2 separate regions of the Homo sapiens genome follow, and region 1 is linked to region 2. A link means that fine-mapping ties the variant in region 2 to the expression of a gene that starts in the linked region. Tissue or cell type: whole blood. Region 2 holds a variant in brackets; the other region holds the start of a gene. All regions are shown on one strand. Distances are between the middles of the regions.

Evidence for each region. PIP is the estimated chance that this variant, and not a neighbour inherited with it, causes the effect.
Region 1: it holds the start of CERS4, and the variant in region 2 is fine-mapped to the expression of CERS4 in whole blood (INTERVAL, PIP above 0.99). The same link has a PIP of 0.9 or more in blood mononuclear cells and monocytes.

Annotation. Positions count from the first base shown.
Region 1 is chr19:8,207,980-8,210,730 of GRCh38, reverse strand. It overlaps CERS4 (ceramide synthase 4), which reads right to left and starts at 1,361. Exons shown (of 12, transcript NM_024552.3): 1 at 1,237-1,361; 2 at 1-25. RefSeq lists a silencer at 761-1,680.
Region 2 is chr19:8,241,239-8,243,989 of GRCh38, reverse strand. All of the region lies in intron 2 of CERS4 (ceramide synthase 4), which reads right to left. Among named protein-coding and RNA genes, the nearest start is that of CERS4, 33 kb to the right of the region's middle. The variant T/C (reference allele first, on the strand shown) is at 1,569.

The DNA.
Region 1 (2,751 bases), 33 kb after region 2:
CTGTGTTTATTCACAGCAGCTGCTCCTGGAAGGCAGACCCATTTGAGGCTGGGGGAGGCCGAGGGCTTCAAAGACAATTCCACAGTCCAGGAACCCTATCCCCATATAACAGACCCAGGTCGCCCCAGTGGGGTCACCCTGGCCTCTGCGCTCAGATGCCTGAGACCTTGCCTGAGCTCAGACTGGAGTCGATGGGAGCATTCCCCCATCTGGTAGGTTTTGCAAACCACAACAGCCTCTCCCCCTGCCCACCTTCCTGTGTCCCCCAGAGCAGCTTCTCCTCAAGTCTCCCAACCCAGCAATGAAAGCCTCTTCTATATACTCCTAACTACCCAGGAGAAACATCGGTCCCCCACGCTCCACTTGCAAACAGACAGAATTAGACGATGTTACTCTGCCAAAGCGAATTTTCAGTTCACCCACTTCCTATCACACCTTCCAGCCAGGTCAAGCCAGAAGCCCCCTTCCAAGTATCCCCATCTCTCCTACCCACAGCGGCTACGGGATGTTCTTAAGACACAATCCGATCACGCCATGCACCTGCTGTTCCAAGCCTCCCTGGTCCCCACCGCCCCGAGAACGGGTTCCACACTCTCCTCGCCGCTTCCCAGGCCCCGGCCAACCTCTCTCCACCTCAGACCCTCCCTCTCCGCGTTTCAGCCAGGCTGGCCTCTTTTCTGCTCCGCACACACTCCCGGCTAGGCCCTGGGCCTAAAAAGCCCTCGCTGGCTGGTCCAACCAGGCCAAATGACATTATCCCCGCCTGGGCACCTCCACCTCACCCCGGCCGCCTGATGGGTTAGCTCGGGCTTGGAATGACGTGTTTAAGCGGTTCTCAGAAGCCGTCTACGCGGCCGGGCTGCGGACTCCGAGGCCAGGGCCCCAGCTGCGTCCCCAGCCCTGGCACGTCGGGGAAACGGGGCGCTCCCCCGGCTCACACATCCGGATTCCCCCGCGTCACGAGGCCAGGATCGCCCCTACTCGCTCCAGCCCGTTTCACAGCCGCGTCCTCGGGCACCCGTTGCGCCCCGGCCCTCGTGGGGGAGCGCGGATAGCTCGGGGAGACGGCCATGATGGGAAGCCCCGAGGGGGACAGTCCCCGGCGGGGTGATGGGGGCTGGAGCCCAGCTGCGAGTGGGGGCCGGGCTGGGGCCGCCATGGCCGCGGAGGCGGGGCCGGGGACCGCCGTGAGGGTGGCGTTCGGGGCGGTGTTCGCGGCGCGGGGTGCTCGCTTACCTGGGGGTGCAGGCGGCCGGGCGCACCGAGGGCCGGCGGCGGGGCTGGGGACGGCGCGCCTAGCGGGCTACCCGGAGCAGCTGCAGACACGCGCCGCCCGCCCCAGGCAGCCGGACTCTGCTCCTGGCCGGGCCTCGGCCCCCAGCAGGGGAAAAAAGGCTTGAGTGGGGGGAGCCCGGGGCGGGGCCGTGGGGGCGGGGCCTGGGCGGGGCACGCGCCCCGGAACGGTGGGGCCTGGCGCGGGGCTGGGGCCCTGGAGAGGCGGGGCCTGGCGCGGGGCGGGGGACTTGGAGGGGCAGGGCCTGGAGCGGGCGCCGGGTCCTCCAGGCGCTTGCCCCCCTCGACGCAACTAGGCCTCTCCCTGGCCCCCGACCCCGCACCCGCACCCCATCCCCGCCCCCGTCCCCGCCCCCCCATTCTCGCCCCCGCCCCCGTTCCCGCTCCGCCCATCTCTGCCCCGCGGCGCGCCTGGCCCGGGTCCAGCCTAGCGTTTCTAGTCTGCGCCTTATCTCTCCCCTTTGAACCCAGTATTGTCCGCTGCGCGCTCCGTCCGGCCCCGGCTTCACCCCTGTTCGCTGTCTGTCTCCCCGGCCCCCTCCCAGGTCCCCTCTTCTGCCCGAGATGCTCTGGCTCTGCTCATCTGTCCACACCCCCACACTCCCGGGGCGCCCTGAGCCTCTGGGGCGCGCAGTTGGATGGTGCACAGGGGAGGCCCAGATTTCTCCAGGCCTCAGCGGCCACCCTGGGTACCCCGAGTCTGGGGCCCTGTTGGAGGGCCAGTCCAGGGGTTCGCCCGAGGCGCGCGCGGGGGCCAACCGAGGCGGTGAGGGCACCGGGCAAAGGCTGCGATTTGGTGGGGTGCAGGGGTCAGGCGACAGAGCTGGGGAGATAAGATGGGAGATAGGCCGGGTGGGTGGTGGCGCAGCCCTGGTTTTGGCTGAGGGCAGCAGCAGTGGGGGCTGGGTCCCCCGCTTGCCTGGTAGAACCGAAAATGACCCAGTCTCAGCAGCGCGCAGGGGCAGGGAGCCTGGGCGATCCCTGAACAGAGGACAGCCCCAGGGGTTTTCATAGTCGCTGGCCCACCGCATGTACTCTGGGCAAGTGGCTTCGCCTTTGGACAATAAGCCTCTGTAAAATGGGGATAATAAACCTTTCTCTGACTCAGCTCAGCAGACCCAAGACCCATGGGGTGAAGTTGGGGCCTCCCTGCCACAGGGCCCTAGGCAAGCTGAGATTTGATTTCCTCACACAGACAGGGGCGCGGGGGGCGGGGCGGTCAGGGAGGCAGGAGACCTCTGTTGCAAGTGTGGAAGAACCTGTCCCTCCAAGTTCAGACTCCTGGCGTTTGCACTTGGCCTTCCCTCTGCTACACTGTTTCTCTTTTCTTTTTTCTTTTTCTTTTTTTTTTTTTGAGACGGAGTCTTGCATTGTGGCCCGGGCTGGACTGCAATGGCATGATCTCGGCTCACTGCAACTTCTGCATCCTGGTTTCATTCGATTCTCCTGCCTCAGCCT
Region 2 (2,751 bases):
AATTCCATCTTCAGCCTCACCCCACTTGGCCACTGAAGCTGTCAGCCTTCCAGTCTGAAGAACTGGATGAACCAGAATGGATGAGCTGATTTCAGGACAGGAGTCAGGCTAAGTGTCAGACAACACAAATTGTGGGTGTGGGGGAGGGCAGCTAAAATGTTCCCGTGGGCGTGTGGAGGAGGCAGGAGCTACTCAGGTTTGGGGCACAGGCTTGGGGTGGGTGGGGCCTGGGTAGGACTTGTCAGTGAGTGGCTGCTGTTGAAATCCATGAAGATGGATGGAATCCTCTATCTATCAGCAAGGGGTCAACAAGACCCTGTTTTGGGGGAAAAAAAAAAAAAAGGAAGAGACTGCACATGAAGGGGCAGGCTAAGTACCATGCTATGGGGCAACTGACATTTAGGCATCAGTGAAGTATTAGAAGCTGTTGCTAGCATTGGATACTCTGGTTGGGGAGGGGCACTAGAAGTCAGTGACCCAACAAGCAGTCAAGGGTGTGGGATAGCAGCTAGTCTAGACCTACAACGAGGCCCAGGCATCCCAGACAGAGTAGACACATGAACAGCTGGGTGGATGTGGGGACTTCAGCCCAGGTGGTTGATTTCTCAAGAAAAAGAAATCATCTTCACTAGCAGACAAGGTTGGCTTGATCCCGTGTGCCCGTGGGGGCTCAAGGACACATGGCCAGCTTGGCACTCTTGGTCCCAACTGTACTCAGCTCTCACAGCCAAAGCCATGACCACTGCAGGGTATCTGCAATCCCCTATTTTTTTTTTTTTTTTTTTTTTTTTTTTTAGAGACAGGGTCTCACTTTGTCACCCAGACTGGAGTGCACTGGCCTGATCATAGCTCACTGCAGCCTCAAACTCCTGGGTTCAAGCCATCCTCCCACCTCAGCCTTCTGAGTCACTGGTGCAGCTTTCTCAGAGACCCTGCTACCTTTCTGACAGACCCCAAGGTGCAGATGGAAGGGGACTAGGTGTCCTAGGAAGGCCCAGGCATCCAGACCCCCAGCTCCATGTTTTCCCCTCACCCAAGGGTCTTGGATGCATCCTTGCACACCTTGGTACATTCAAGTCATGATGAGTGTAGGGGATGAGGGAGAACCACAGGAGCAATGGCTTCTCACAATCTCAAGCCTTGCCTCTGCTGATGTGCCCAGCTTCAATGCCCACCAGTTTACTGACTGATACTCTGCTCCCACCAGACCATATCGTTTCACACATCCTAGCCTTTACAAATACTGGCCTCTGCCTAGAATGCTCATTTAGTATTTGGGTGCTGAAGACACAAAATGGTGGGGAAAACAAGCAACATCTCTGCCCTGAAGAGCTTAAACGCTTTCTTTCTCTGTTTGGCAAACTCCTATGCATCCTTCAAAACCCAGCTCAGTTGTCACCTCCTCCTGAAAGCAGCCCAATTGCCCTGCTTTGGATCCTGTTAAAGCACCCTCCCGCAACCCTGTCTTACTGTGATGTCAGGAGCTGGCCAGTGTTTTTGCAGGGAGGGTTGGAGAAGGAAGCATAACCAGTTCTAAACTCTCCTCTCCTCTGCTGAATCATGCCCAT[T/C]GCTTCCTGAGTGGCACAGAAAGGGGAACAGATGCACTTTCTAAACCAGGGAGCTCTCCAAGGAGGCTTCAGACTGATATGCCCTGATTGCAGAGGTCTGGCCCCAGAGGTCCTACTCTCTCACTAACCTCACCAACCTGTCTCTGTCTCGTCCCTTCCCTCTTCTCCCTCTTAAAGCATAAATAAAAGATGCTGTGGTTTGAGAAAAGAACAGGGTCTGGAGCCCAGCAGACTGGCTGGAGTCCTAGCTGCAATGCTTCAAAGCCCTGGGAGCCTCAATTTCGTCACCTGTTGGTGGGACAGGTGCCCTCCCTGAAGGGTGGTTAAGCAGCTCAGAGACCTTGCACCTGGGGCATTGAGGCAGAGTCTGGCATATGGGAGGGGCTCAGGCATGGCTATAACCAGGCACCTCAGGCCAGCAAGGCTCAACTTCTCCTGAGGGAAGGGAGGAAATGAGGCTGAGGGATGTGTTCCTCAATTTCTAGCTTTTCTCTTTTGGATCCAGTTCTTCTGTTTGTTCCCTGTCATCCTCTGTCTTCCTGGGCCTCAGTTGTCCCATCTGAAAAATGGGTACAGCTAGATTCCCTCCTTGTTCTACCAGGCTATTGTGAGGCTCAGGGCAGGCGGGCAGTTTATAAACACTCCATGCTGATATCACAACGGATCTGATTCCTGATTCCTGCCTCACCCGTTTACCAGGCATGGAACGTGGCCTATCTGTGCCTCAGTTTTATCTGTAAAATGGAACAAACAATAGCCCCTCTTCCACATGGAGTGGTTCGGAATGGCACCTGAGGTGGAGTGAGCACCTAGTAAAATTTAGAGGACCGAGTGCAGTGGCTCACACCCAGCACTTTGAGAGGCCGAAGTGGGAGGATTGCTTAAGGTCAGGAGTTCGAGACCAGCCAGGGCAACATAGCAAGACAAAAAAATTTAAAAATTAGGTGGGCATAGTGACACACACCTGTAATCCCGGCTACTCAGGAGGCTGAGGTGAGAGGACTGGTTGAGCCCAGGAGTTTGAGGCTGCAGTGAGCTGTGATCACACCACTGCACTCCAGCCTGGGTGACGGAGCAGATCCTGTTTCGGAAAAAAACCCCCCAAAAAACAGCTTAGACTGTGATAGTTACTGCTAGACAGGAGGTGGGGGCAGGATGGGGAGTGGTCTGGAAAGAAGGGGTG